4 linked regions of the Homo sapiens genome follow. The protein of the gene in region 1 interacts with the protein of each later gene in a biochemical or structural test. Each region holds a gene or a part of one and is shown on either strand. Other genes may lie near its edges.

Region 1 (4,080 bases):
GTTATCTTGGCTCCCCAGACCCTATCTGTGACAACAAGAGGAGCTGTTACCTGGGTCCCTATAATTTGGAGAACGGACTGGAGTGTCTTTCCCAAAGTCAAATGGGGGAAACTGAGGCAGACAGCAGGGTCAAGGGCCTGCATGGAGTAGAGACACCCACTTCATGTAGACCCCATCCCCCTAGGAACAGAGGAAGGAACTCAAAGGACTTTGACCATCTCAAAAGTATTTGTTCAGACAACCATGCCATAGATACTGACTGAGCACCTACTATGTGCCAGGCACATGAGGCTCAGTCTTGTGTGTTTCCTTCCCTCCTACATCTCCTTCCAGCTGCCGCTCTCCACTCAGAGCTTGGATGACTTCCCCAGCCTTGGGGCCAGCCTCTCTGTCTGAGCTCCTCCAATCTTTCCCACTCTGCAGCCACAGGGACCTTTCTAGAACAGACAAACAACCGTGTCACTCCCAGGCAGGACTTCTGGGCCTCTGGGTCTGATTTAGCTCCTGCCTGTCTGATCCCTCACCCTTTCCAGTCACGTCACAAACTCCAGACAAACAGAACTATTTCTCTGCTCTATAAACCCCAGGTGTAGCCACCTGGTAACAGGTAAAAGTCATATCTCTGCTAGTGCCATTCTCTTTGCCTGAATACTCTTTCCTCTACTTCTGCATTTATTCTTTAAGGTGCGGCTTAAACACTACCTTGACCAAGCCCTCGTGGGTCCTTCCTGGGCCAGTCCTCCTACCCTACGGCATTCTCCCCTGACCCCATCCATTCCACAGCATACATTTACTAAGCGTCGGCCATCCATGCACACCTTGCTAGATGCTCACAAGTCAGGTGTGGGAGCTCCTCCCCGGGGGGCCACAAGGGAAAATCCTTCTTGCCTTCACACGCCTCAGGCTACAGCGAAGCTGGGATTGGAAGCATCTCACTGCTCCAGTGCCCAGCCCAGAGCTGGCACAGGTGAGCTTGCAGAGAGCATTTGCTGGAGGAGGGAGTAAGTGGCAGAGGCCCAGTTGGCACCAGATAAGGCAGGAGGAACCTCCACAGCCCCTTCCCCAGATATAAGGTATCTGGGTTTCACCTGGGGAATCCCAGCCATCCTCACCGGAGCTCATGTGAAACATCCCTCCTGGGGGCATCACACCCTTTTTGTTCAGGCAACCATTCCCTGGTTACCTCCATTTCAAAACAGCCCCACCTTGATCTTACAAAGTGAACCGCCCTGAACTATGACTGCCATTTGCCATTTGTGTCTGGGACCCCTTCCGCGTGCAATTCACCAATCAAGGTGGGTGTCCAGGCTTTCTGGTTCCCATCATTCTTCAAACAGAATGAACTAGAGAAATGTGGAAATGGCCAATTGACTTTTTTCACCCTCTTTGTTAAGAAAATGTTTGGGGCAACGACAACTGGTTAAACATTGATGGCAGCCAACAGTGGCTGTGCCAGGTTCCTGGAAGGTCATCGGTCCTCACGACAGCCCTGGGGGCTTGCCCTCAGGCACCCCAGTATTACAGAGGAGAGAACACAAAGGCTCAGACAGCTAAGGGACCAGGCCAAGGTCACACAGCAGGGGACTGCAGAGCACACCCCGGGCCCCACACAGGCCCGCTCTTAGCCCCGCAGATAACCCAGGCCTGACCTTTCTACCCTTGTTCCCCCAAAAGCCCACCTCGTCACCCTCCTCAGGAGCCCGGGGAGTCCCGACTTACCCTCTGCCCTTGCTCCGGAGCCAAAGTGGCAAAGCTTAAATCCTCAAGCGGTTCTTAGCATCCCAGAACAAAGCTCCCACAGGGTATCTGCCTAACATTTCAGGGGTTCACGGCCCCTCTGCCCCCAGCAGAGGCTCTTGTTTTAGAAGCTGAGCCAGAACAGCCACAGGGCCCACCTCTGCCCTGCCACTTCCCAAGCACCCCGGGGGCACCAGGCCCTGTGTGCAGAGCTGGCCCCAGGACAGGCCACCTGGTGTGGTGGGAAGGGCTTTGGGGCTGGATAGTCCCTGGGTTTAAATCCCAATTGTCTAGATCCCCGACCTAAGCCTCAGTTTCCCCATCTGCAAAACAGAGAGGACAGACAGAGGGAACAGCTGGGGCAGGCTGGAGCAGTGGGTGGCTCGATGAATGCATCTGTGGTTGGTGTTTCCAGGCAAGCGGGGAGTGTGGGAGTCTCTCTCTCCCCCACCCCCACCCCCGCTACCCACCCCCAGGAGCCACCCGCCCCCGGGACGTCCTGAGAGTCCAGGGCAGAACTAGAGGTTAAAGATTTTCATGCCTCTTGGAGGAAACAGCCGTCTCTCCGGGACTCAGTAACCAAGAAGAAGCCTTTGGAAGCTCCAGACTCCAAATTCCCTCCGACATGCTCAGGGGCCAAGGGCAAACCTTAGGTCCCCCGAAATCCCTCTTCCAAGTCTCCTAAGGTGGGCTGCAAGGCTCCGGGCCTTTGGTTCCCTGGCTTGGGGTCTCAGGGAACCGAACCGCCCTCCCCCCAGACCTGCTACCCCAGGCCCCACGTTGGTGCCCATTTCACAGGTGATAAAACCGAGACCCAAAGAGCCGGTGTCCGGCCCAAGGGCACTTAGCTGAGAGGCTGGCGCCTGCGGAACCTGGTGCCTTCCGTCTCCCGCGCCCCTGGCCCGCATTTTGGAGCCTCGGGACCCCCCGGAGCCGGACGGGCCACGGAGATGTCCCCAGGGGCGCGAGGGGACCTCGGCTGAGCCGCCCCTCCCGGGCCCGGGCCCCACTTACCTCCGGGACGGCTGGGCGCCGGCGGCCGGGAGATCCGCGCTTCCTGAATCCCGGCCGGCCCGCCCGGCGCCCGTCCGCCCGCGGGTCCCTCCTCCGCCGGCTCAGGTTCCAGCCGCGCGCCGCCCCCGGCCAGCTCCCCGCCCACCCGCCGGCTCGCGGACCCCGCCGAGCGCAGGCCCTAGAAGGGGCGGCCCCTACTCGCACCCCGCCCGCCCAGCGAGGGCCTCCCCTGCGGGGGAGGTGCAGGGCCAGGGCCTCAGTTTCCTCGCCTGGAAAATGGGTGTCGCGATCCCCGGATAGAGCGGCAGACGGTCTTTGGAGAGGGCTCTAGTTGGAATCGGCTCCGATTCGATCTTGCTCCGTGACTTCGGGCCGCCCTGGGACTGTGTCCTAGTCTCTAAATGGGCGTCCCGGCCCAGTCCTCCACGTGTTTGCTCATTCATTCATTCAGCAGACAATTTCCTCCGAGGCGTTGAAGGAGGTCCCTACCCTCGGGTATGGCCCATAGAGATGGTTCAGGGGTAAATAAATGTGAGCTGCTCTCCTTGGTCTTCACCCAGTGCTTACTGCGAAGCCTGCCTCGGAGTAGGCCATCAATGTTTTGTTGCTGTTGTTTTTGAGACAGGGTCTCACTCTGTTGCCCAGGCTGGAGTGCGGTGGCGTGATCAGGAATCACTGCAGCCTCAACCACCAGCGTTCAAGCAATCCTCCCGTATCAGCCTCCCTAGTAACTGAGACCACAGACGCCTACCACCATGCTTGGCTAATTTTATTTAAATTTTTTGCAGAGATAGGGTCTCACTATGTTGCCTAGGCTGGTCTCAAACTCCAGGCTCAAGCGATCTACCCACCTCGGCCTCCCAAAGTGCTGGGATTAGAGGTCTGAGTCACCGTGCCTGGCTCAATGCGTTTTTGTTTATTTTTTTTATTATTATTATTATTTTTGATACATGTTCTCCCTTTGTCACCCAGGTTGAAGTGCAGTGGCATGATCACGGCTCACTACAGCCTCAAACTCCTGGCCTCAAGAGATCCTCCCACCTCAGCCTCCTGAGCAGCTGGGAGTACAGGCATGCGCCACCACACCCCACTAATTTTTATTTTTTTGTAGAAGGGGGGGTGGGGGAGGGCAGCCGGTCTACAACTCCTGGCCTCAAGTGATCCTCCCACTTCAGTCTCCCAAAGCACTGAGAGTATAGGCATGAGCCACCACACCTACCCATGTATTTTCTTTTATCAGATAACAAAGGTGGGCCCCAACACATAGCCATACCCTCTACCCAGCACTGAGTCCACTTGAATACCTCCACAGGATGGGCAGCTCACTTC
Region 2 (3,500 bases), on another chromosome or scaffold:
GGACCCATTTGAAAGGCCTGGCAAAGTCTGCTTTGATTTCTCTAACTTTTGGATTGAAGTATCTGCGACAGTTGACTTTTCTTTTGACTCTGACAATTCATCTGAAAATTAAAACACAGTAGGTGATATATCATATAGAGAGTAATATATAATTTAAAATACCTGTCATAAACTTAACCTACACTTAGTGAAACTATTAAAATATTAAAGACAGTAAAGTATGTGGCACAACTACAGGCCTAATGTGAAAAGCTTTTAAAAATTCATGCATTGGAGCACAGAGGACTTTTAGGGCACTGGAACTACTCTATGACACTACAATGGTGGCCGCACACTATTATACTTTTGTCTAAACCCATAGAATGTACACCATGAAGAGTGAACCCTGATGTAAACGATGTACTTTGGGTGATAGTGATGTCTCAATGTGGTTCATCACGTGTAACAAATGTACCATTCTCATGAGGAATGTTGATAATGAGGGAGGCTATGCCTGTGTGGGGAGAGGGTGTATATGGAAAACGTCTGTATCTTTTGCTCAATATTGTGAACCTAAAACTGCTCTAAAAAATAACGTCTATTCGAAAAATCATGTATAAACTTCATTGCACTGTACATTTAAGATTACTGTGCTTTATATAGTTTGTGATTATTTTACACCCAATACAGAAAGTTTTTTTAAGAATGAAAAGAAAATTTCTCAAAAGAGGCTTAAAGAAAAACATAGAAGTCACTTAAATTCACCTGCAGAAATCAGAAAAGGAAATTCAGTTTAAAAAAATAAAACCCCATTACCTAACACAAAATTTATTTTTGTCAGAAAGTTAAAAACAGGCCAAGCGCAGTGGCTCACACCTGTAATCCCAGCACTTTGGGAAGCCGAGGTGGGTGGATCACTTGAGTCCAGGAGTTTGAGACCAGCCTGGCCAAAAGGGTGAAACCTCATTTCTACTAAAAATACAAAAATTAGGCGGGTGTGGTAGAGCACGCCTGTAGTCCCAGCTACTCAGAAGGCTGAGGCACTAGAAGCCCCGGAACCCGGGAGGCGAAGGGTGCAGTGAGCCGAGATTGCACCACTGCACTCCAGCCTGGGCAATAGAGTGGGACTCCATGGCCAAAAAAAAAAAAGAAAAGTTAAAAACAAACATCTAACATGTTCCAGTGATTTTCTTCTACAAAATATTTTATGTAATCTAAAACGTGCCCAGTGGAAAGTATTTTAATATTCAGACAGGCTAATTGAAAACCCCAGCTCCACTGTTTTTTAATTTTCTACCCCTAACCACTCTTTAATGCTTGTGGAATCTTCTTCAAGTTGCTTTTGAAGAGATTGAAATGTTTAGCATTTCCTCTTAACAGTATATAAAAATGATAAAATTCCATAGCAGGCTGACTTACATCAATTGAGCCACAAACCTGATCAAACGCTTTTGGGCGGCTGGGCTGAGAATTACAGATTAGAGGATCATAACATTGTCAACAGGCTTTTTCTTCTTGAGGCAAGCCCTTTTAAACAGAACTTTGTGAACACACAGTAGGCATCTAATAAATACTGTTAAGTGGAAGACTGAATGTCTTGGGTCAAAAAATCTCCCAATTTACTGATGAGGGAATCCAAGACACAATGGAAGTCACGTAACAAGTCACAGCTCTGAGACTGGAATGCGTGAGCTATCAGTTTCTCAAATTTCTGCTTCCTCTCCCTCAGGAAGGAAACCAACAAGCACCGTAAAATAAGAAAACCATCAGGACTTTTCACTTTCTCTTGGAAGTTATTTGAGCAAAAGGAACTCTGAGAATTTCCCTTAGTCCACAGATAACAAAGATAAAAAAATCAAGTTCATAAAAATAATATTTACCCTCTTTTGAAGTCTGAAATAAACCAGTTCTTCCATTTTTTGACTGTTCATTTTTAGTTTGTTGTGATGAGTGACCTTCTGGCAACTTGGAGCTATTAAACGGATTCTTCCTCTGCTGGGGACAAATATTGTTTATTAAACTTATTTTAAATGTCATGACAGCAACTCAGTGTTGGCAAATGCCTATTATCTTCAATTTTGATAGTTTTATCCCATAAACTCCATTATTTGGCATGTTTGAAAAACAGTTGTCCTGATTAATCTGCTTAGCACAGAGTTACCATATATGCCATTTAAAAATTATATAAAATATATGCAAAGCCAGAGTCCTACAAAGTTAGCTCAGAATCAGACACTTAAATCAAAATCCCACATTTTACAGGTGAAAAAACTTGGCCCCGGATATAGCAAAGACCAGATCAAGGTCAAAGGAAACTTGGGTCTCTAATCAGGTCAGAGTCCCACCAGTGATTCTTCTACCATACCAGACTCTCAGTGTGCTAGATCACAAGTGTACAAAATACAACTGTAATTGACCTTTCCTAAAGATTTTGGAGACATTTTAGGTATCTTGAAGTGCTTCATAGTCATTATTATTATCATCAATTCTAATGATAAAAATGGTATCAATAGAGGTTTTAAAAATTAATATAGGAATCAATAACAATGTTTACTGTCTATAGTTTAATAAATTAGCAATTCTCTCCCAGAAGCAGATCTCTAACAGAGATTTAGGAAGCTATGCATAGGAATATAGGAATAAGGACTGACATGGAACTAACAAGCCTTATTCCATATGCTAAAAAGCAGCAGCACCAAATAGCTTCAGACTTTTTACCCTCTAGGGCAAGAAATCTGGGTCTTCAGCAATGCAATGACATGGTATCCATCCACTTTTTCCACCATGAGAGTGACTTCTTAAACTAGTGACTTCTTAAAATAGTGAAAATTACCTGTATTTGGTACCAAAAAACTGTACTACAAAATTCTCTTTATTTTGTGGTGCTTTGACACAATGAGGAAAAATGGCATTCCTAACAAATACAAGATTTTCAAAATCTGGGCTCAGTCTACCTTCTCTGGAGACACATTTGGTTTCCTTGTGTTTTCCTGGGACATATCAATCACACTGGAAGCTGGATTTACCACACTGGAACTGCAAAAGAAACAATAATTCAGAGAATAAAACCTCACCTTTTGAGGAATCATAAATTATGCCTCTGAAGTGGAAAGCTATCAGCAGGCTAGGAGAGGAAGCTGGTGCAGAAGAATAAGAAGGATTCTCTAGAGAATTATTCCCTATCCCAGGGACAGGACAGCACCAGAGTGAGAGTAAGGCAAGAGTGAGTGGAGACAAGTGAAGTGAGCAGGCTCCCTCCAGAACCACCACACCCTTGACTGTTGATTGAGAAGGGCAAAAGAGGGTCACGGAGGCCCTGGGTGGGGAGAGGAACAACCTGCTCAGACTTCCTGTTCCAGTGGTCTTGCCTCAGGCACAGGAGGTGAAGTTGCTATTGGCTGAAGCCTTCGTGTCCTGTTACCACCACCAGTTCTCTCAGTGGCATCACAGAGTCAGGAGCTTGGAAAACACCTTAGTTTGTGGAGGTAGGGGTAAGATTCCTGCTTTTCCCCATGAAGTAA
Region 3 (3,500 bases), on another chromosome or scaffold:
TACTAAAAATACAAAAATTAACCAGGCGTGGTGGCGGGCACCTGTAATCTCAGCTATTGGGGAGGCTGAGGCAGGAGAATTGCTTGAACCTGGGAGGCGGATGTTGCAGTGAGCCAAGATAGTGCCACTGCACTCCAGCTTGGGCAACAGAGTAAGACTCTGTCTGAAATAATAATAATAATAATAATAATAATAATAATAATAACCATCTTTAATGCACATAGTACTGATAGGATACCACATAGTTCCACATTGATGATTTCACTTTGAGCCTTATAAAAATCCTGTGAGGTAGGCACAATAGACATTACTACCTTTAATTTACAAATTAGCAACATAAGGCTCTGAGCAGTTCCACTACTTCGTAGTGGAAGAACTAAATAACTAAATATGTTATATTCATCATCACCTATCTTTTCTGTTTCTAGTTCTCATAATTTTTCTTTTTTTTTTTTTTTGAGACGGAGTCTCGCTCTGTTGCCCAGGCTGGCACAATCTCAGCTCACTGCAAGCTCCGTCTCCTGGGTTCACGGGATTCTCCTGCCTCAGCCTCTCGAGTAGCTGGGACTACAGGCGCCCACCACCACGCCCAGCTAATTTTTTTTTGTATTTTTAGTAGAGATGGGGTTTCACCATGTTAGCCAGGATGGTCCCAATCTCCTGACCTCGTGATCTGCCCATCTCGGCCTCTCAAAGTGCTGGGATTACAGGCGTGAGCCACCGTGCCCGGCCAGTTTTTCTACTTCTAAAACAATAGTGTGGAAAAGTTGATATTGTAGACTTTTCTTATGTTCTTATTTACTGGCATTCTTTAAATGCGTTGATACTTGAATGAAACATAGATTGTTACATTTTTACCATTAAGTCATAGGTATTTAATTCTACGTACCACTTCTCCAGGTCACTGTTATTAAGGCCTAATTAACTAACACCCATGCACATTGAGATTCTACATCACATTGTTCCTTTCTTTTTATTCTGCCAGTGCCAAAAGAAACAGCATGTGTATAATTCAAGATACTTTGTTATGCTAATCTTAGAAGTTTTGTGACTCTGGTATTAAAGCTAATGACTTAGTAATTATTTTTGTAGTTTTCTTTTTTTTTGAGACAAGAGTCTGGCTCTGTTGCTTAGGCTGGAGTGCAGTGGCGTGATCTTGGCTTACTGCAGCCTCTGCCTCCCGGGTTCAAGTGATTCTCCTACCTCAGCCTCCTCAGTAGCTGGGATTACAGGCATATGCCACCATGCCTGGCTAATTTTTGTATTTTTGGTAGAGATGGGTTTCACCACATTGGCCAGGTTGGTGTTGAACTCCTGGCCTCAAGTGATCTGCCCGCCTTGGCCTCCCAAAGTGTTGAGATTACAGGTGTGAGCCACTGTGCCTGGCCTGTGGTTTTCCATTATAGTCAGAAGGGCTCTGTGAGTGTAATCGCTGGCAACCATGTGTCAAGCACACTGTTTCCTGATCACTTTTCTGTAGTTTAAGAGTAAGTAGTGCATAGAATATAAGACGATGTGAAAGAAGATAATTTTGAATCTTAATCATTTTAAATATAATTTCTTTCCATGGAACAGGATCGTTATCAATAAACAAAAATATTTGTAGGGCCCCTGACATGGTACTTTCAGAGAACTCTGTGGTTAACAGAATGATTCTGAGTATCTCACCTAGTTATAAAGATATTTACTGAGGGAAAACAAGATATCAGCTTAGGTTCCCGCACATGTTTATTTTAAAAGATAGTAAAGCCAGCATTCTAGTTTTGGATCATATACTGTCTTACTTATGTATTGTGGGTACACTGTAGTGGAGAGGCTTTGTGTGTGGTTCTACAAAATGAGGCATAATAAAGCTATTTTGAATTCTGCCTAGGTAAAAACATTTAAATAAAATGATCAGTCTTAAAATTATTCTTTTCTTATAAATTTTTTTTAAAAAATTTTTTGTAGAGACAAGGTCTCACTATGTTGCCCAGGCTGGCCTTGAACTTGTAACAATTCATGTTTCATTCAAGTATCAATCAATGCATTTAAAGAATGTCGGTAGATAAGAACATAGGAAAAGTCTACAATACCAATTTTTCCCCACCACTGTTTTAGAAGTAGAACACCTCAAGTGTCCCTCTTGCTTTGTCCACCCAAAGTGTTGGAATAACAGGCATGAGCCACTGTGCCTGGCCCTTGAAATTATCTTAATCCCCAGTTTTTTTCTAAGTGCTGTTAAGATACCAGTAAACCGGAACATGAATAACTGCATTCAGTCTGAGCATAGAAAACTGCTTAGGGACAAATGGAAGGGAAACTTGGTCTTTAGACCTTACTGTAGAGCCTGGATAATATAAACTAAACTATTCAGAGTTATGTGTCAGTAGATGGTGGAAGAATGTGGTTATGGAGTGAAGGAAGGAACACTTTCAGGCAGGGTTTAGTTCTATCAAGTCTACTAGTAGCAGGGGACTTAGGAAGAGAAGGTCCAATGCAAATGAACCCTGGGAAGGGATAGTTAGTAGGAAAATAATCACCAGATATAATGAACTGAAGACACGTATGAAATGTAACAACTACTAATCAGGTTTTATAAATAAAGAAATTTATGACAGAAAATGGGCTTTCACAGGGAAAGCACATATGCTGATAGTTTGTATCAGTCATGATATTAATCTTCAGATGTAATATCGTTAATCTCCAGTGGTTACATCAAATACTACCTCTTTCACTGGCCTATTTTGAGTCCATAAGCATAGGTAAATTTCCTGCCCTCTGAATTCTGCTTCATAGTAGAGTACCTTGTGTTTCTTTCAGTTTTTCCCAATAAACCATTATAATTTCCCTGTCTCCAGGAGCTGATGTCTGATTTATTTTTGTATCCCACATTCACAGATCTTAACATTTTACAAGATAGTTCCAAGTAACCTTATTTATTCATTTAAGTAAGTAGTGAACAATTATTAACTTGGTTCCTAAATCTTTTCTAGGATATTAGGAATTTACGATTTGCTCATAAACCTGAGGGGCGGACAAGAAGATCCATATTTGAGAATCTAATGAAATATGCATTTCCTGTCTCTAATAACCTGGTAAAATGTTTCCTGTCTTTGGAAAATTTGTGCTATAATTATTGATGTCGTATAAAGAAACTTGTCTAGGCTGTCTAGAATCTCTACATTTACATCCCTGCTTTGACATTTAACCAGATGTATAGTGTAAGTGTAACTTAGTCTCTTAGATCAATTTCTTTAGGTATGAAATAAAGGAAGCTGGACTAGCTGATTTCTGAGGTCCATTCCAGCACTAACATTTTATGATTATATGATCTTGCTATTCAGGGTGTTTCCATGATGAAAAGTTACCTGTTGTCTTCATTAGGATTTGTAATCTCCTTTTTAATTGGGAGCCAGTTAACACTAGCAATTTGGGAGGGAGGTAAGGGTAGGCAAACCCTGAGTTCCCACTATGTGCTTTAGACAGTGTTAGACTCCCACGTTTATATCATTTCACTT
Region 4 (3,500 bases), on another chromosome or scaffold:
AAATTACAGACCAATAGACTTCATAAATATAGATGCAAACCTTAACACAATTTTAACAAATCACATCCCACAATAAAATATCACACCATGACTAACCAGAGTTTATCCCGGGAATGCTAGGTTTAACATACGAACATTAATGCCCCAAAATTCATGTTCATCCAGAACCTCAAAATACGACTTTCTTAGGAAATAAGGTGTTTACAGCTTTAAATAGATAAGATGAGGACACACTCAATTAGGGTGGGCCCTAAATCCAATGCCTGGTGTCTTTTTTTAAGAGAAAGAAGAGACACAGACATGCAGAGAAAACACAGGGAAGAAGGCCACATGGGATGAAGGCAGAGAAGGGAATGATGCAGCTACAAGCCAGCTACAAGCCAAGGAATGCCATGGACTGCTGGCAACCACTAGAAAGAAGCTGGAAGAGGCAAGGAAGGATTCTTCCGTGATGCCTTCAGAGGAAAATGGCCCTGCAAACACCTTGATCTTGGACTTCTGACCTCCAGAACTAAGAGAATACATTTCTGTTGTTTTAAGTTAACCAGTTTGTGGCAATTTGTTACAGCAGCTACAAGAAACTAGCACAATATTCAATGGATCAGATAATTTTCTTAAATATAAAGTATTTGCTTGGGTTTCTTCTTCTGGTTTTCAGAACAAATTAAGAAACAGCATGGTGGTGTCAGTTAGGCGTATATCAAATTGTCAGCTTTACTGGTAAAGCTCAACTGCAGAACAAGATTTGAATTGGTAGCCTATTGTGCTTCCTAATACTTCCAGTCTGAATTAGGGGGATTCCCCCATTTAGTCATTGCACAAAAGAGCTCCTCTCAGCACCTTCTGCCTCACCTCCCAGAGAGCAGATCCTTAAGCACCAACACTGCAGACAAGCGATGAGAAAAAGAAAGAAGCTTGGCCAGGTGGCATGCAGTTCCCTAATCTGCCCAAGCAGATTATGGGGAAGAAATGTTCTTCCTGTACTTTTCCCTTCTGAAATGTTCAGAAGGGACAGTTTGCTTCTCATAGTGAAATACAAAGAGAAAAACGAAGTGTTCTCCCTTAATAACAATGCATAGTAAATTCCCTGATGGAAACCTGAAAGGCCACATTTAATGCTATTGGAACATAACCCAAAGAACACAGAAGAGTGCCATGAACATTCAACACACATTTGTTGAGTGAATAAAATCAAATAAATAAAATGACACTGACTATATTGTTCTTAGCCATAAATTACATAATTCAAAGATACATAAATTTAAAAAATTATTAAAGATAAACACTATTATATAGATTCAGAAAAGCAACACTTTTTGACATTTTACTTTCTCTAAAACTGGATAAACTCTACAATCACTGGTGTGTTATAGTTTAATTGGATGCATTTCCTTCTTCCTTAGTGGTATGTAAAATAATGCTACGTCTTACAATTGATGCAGTTTTAGACTCGGTGGAATACAGTGTATTTTTAAAAATTATTTCCTTATCAGTTGCAGAAGAAAGTATGTAAAACACACACACACGCACACAAATTCATTCTCTCCTTCTCTTTTTCATAATCAGATAAAAAAGCATAAATTCAAGAACACAATTCAACAGTTTAGTGGTAGTGCTAACCTCAGGATCAAGGTTTTCAGAGAATGCTTTTTTCTCAGCTTCTAATTGTATGCCATTCGGCGTTGGAAGGGAAGAAGGTGCAGAATGTAACTCCAATTCTTCACTGAGGGCAGTTTCTTTATCTTCTAGTCCATCCTTCTCCTCCATGTGACTTTTCTTTTTCAACATACTCCTTGGCCGAGGTGATGGTTTAAAGTGATCATCTGTGTCAAGGCTGTTGTTTTCTGCTGAAAAATAAAATGCTTAAAGTGTGTGTATAAAAAAATGACCATGGCTTTATCTATCTCTCTGGGTGCTACCATACTTCCCTCCTGTGCCTATGCCCCTTTGTTCTCTGTCCTGAAGAGTCCAGATGAAGCCCACAACTCTTCTCTATACAGAGCTCTAGTAAGGCACAAATAAATGATGGTTAATAATCAGGCCGGACGCGGTGGCTCACGCCTGTGATCCCGACATGTTGGGAGCGGTGACTCACGCCTGTAATCCCAGCACGTTGGGAGGCCGAGGTGGGCAGATCATGAGGTCAGGAGTTCGAGACCAGCCTGGCTAACACGGTGAAACCCTGTCTCTACTAAAAATACAAAAAAATTAGCCGGGCTTAGTAGCGCGTGCCTGTAATCCCAGCTACTCAGGAGACTGAGGCAGGAGGATTGCTTGAACCCAGGAGTCTGAGGTTGCAGTGAGCCGAGATCGAGATCACACCACTGCACTCCAGCCTGGGTAATAAGAGCAAAAATCCATCTAAAAAAAAAAAAAAAACCAAACAACAACAACAACAAAAAAAAAACAAAGTAAAGAAACAGTTGTCATCCTGAAAGTAACCAGTCACAAGAAGTTAACTCTTCAACATTGTGAACTCTTATAATATTAAAAAAAAAATGTTAAAAATAAAAAAACAAAACAAAATCTTGCCCCAGTTTCTACCACTATAAAATGAGGAGGCTCATCCATCAAGCCTTTGAGTACCAAGCCCTGTACACGTTACTAAACCTCATAATCAACAAAGCGGCAATGGACCTGTCCAGGTACTTTACAGGTTGATTTTTCTAAACAAAATTACAAGACTAGATTACTAAGATTATAAGTGCTATTATAAGGACAAAGATGATGATGTTGGCACTCAAGGGATAGGAGTGCTAACTCTCATTAGAGGAAGGAATCTTTTATGAGTTAATTGTTCTGAGTCCATAAAACTTCTTTAGCATTTATTAAAATTTCACTCTTTCCATTACTTCTAAGTTTAAATCAAGAATCAAATGCTGATTTGCATCCAGTATTCGAAACAATGGGAAGACTTTCCATGTATATATTTTTTGCCTGCATTTTACCTGCTATACATATTTATGTTTCTATTGTTCTACAAATGCATTTTTCTCAACTTCAAAATTGGTCTAATTAACATCTTCCTCCCATTTACCTAAAAATGGGCTTATGGATTCTGCCAGAAGATTCCACAACCATACCAAATTGGTATTATTATAAGTAGCTGACAATTTTAGCTACATCCTAAACTCCAGCCAAATGTTCAACCCCAAATCCAAGGGCTCTAGATTCCTCCCTCTATTATCCCCTAAATCCAGAGTATCAATATATCCTATCAATTCTAATTGCCAAATATCTCATTTATTCCACTTTCTACATCCCTGCTGTCGGGTCCTTATCCACTCTTTCCTAGATCACTGCTTCCATGATATTTACAAAATCCAAATCAGATCACATCACTCCTTTCTACAAAATTATTCAATGGCTCCCCATGATCCAATCCTACAGAATAAAAGCTTAACTGCCTTTAAACAACATAAAACGGATTTTATGGTTTTGTCCTTCACTGCCTTATCTACAGCCATTTTGTCATCTGTGTTTCTGAAATGCTGGGCTAA

Evidence for each region. The genes of interacting proteins can lie anywhere in the genome.
Region 2: the proteins of TRPV4 (region 1) and SYTL2 interact in a test that uses a peptide from one of them, tested with the Homo sapiens proteins (one large-scale study listed by BioGRID).
Region 3: the proteins of TRPV4 (region 1) and MTMR2 interact in a test that uses a peptide from one of them, tested with the Homo sapiens proteins (one large-scale study listed by BioGRID).
Region 4: the proteins of TRPV4 (region 1) and MAP9 interact in a test that uses a peptide from one of them, tested with the Homo sapiens proteins (one large-scale study listed by BioGRID).

What each region holds. Positions count from the first base shown.
Region 1 is NC_000012.12:109,830,599-109,834,678, forward strand, and holds the start of TRPV4 (transient receptor potential cation channel subfamily V member 4), read right to left. Parts: upstream 2,801-4,080; 5' UTR 2,752-2,800; exon of another isoform or gene 2,750-2,751; intron 1-2,749. UniProt on the Homo sapiens protein: Non-selective calcium permeant cation channel involved in osmotic sensitivity and mechanosensitivity. Activation by exposure to hypotonicity within the physiological range exhibits an outward rectification.
Region 2 is NC_000011.10:85,734,642-85,738,141, forward strand, and holds part of SYTL2 (synaptotagmin-like protein 2), read right to left. Parts: intron 3,016-3,500; coding exon 2,934-3,015; intron 1,975-2,933; coding exon 1,860-1,974; intron 102-1,859; coding exon 1-101.
Region 3 is NC_000011.10:95,858,108-95,861,607, reverse strand, and holds part of MTMR2 (phosphatidylinositol-3,5-bisphosphate 3-phosphatase MTMR2), read left to right. Parts: intron 1-2,975; coding exon 2,976-3,077; intron 3,078-3,500. UniProt on the Homo sapiens protein: Lipid phosphatase that specifically dephosphorylates the D-3 position of phosphatidylinositol 3-phosphate and phosphatidylinositol 3,5-bisphosphate, generating phosphatidylinositol and phosphatidylinositol 5-phosphate.
Region 4 is NC_000004.12:155,366,966-155,370,465, forward strand, and holds part of MAP9 (microtubule-associated protein 9), read right to left. Parts: intron 1,848-3,500; coding exon 1,621-1,847; intron 1-1,620. UniProt on the Homo sapiens protein: Involved in organization of the bipolar mitotic spindle. Required for bipolar spindle assembly, mitosis progression and cytokinesis. May act by stabilizing interphase microtubules.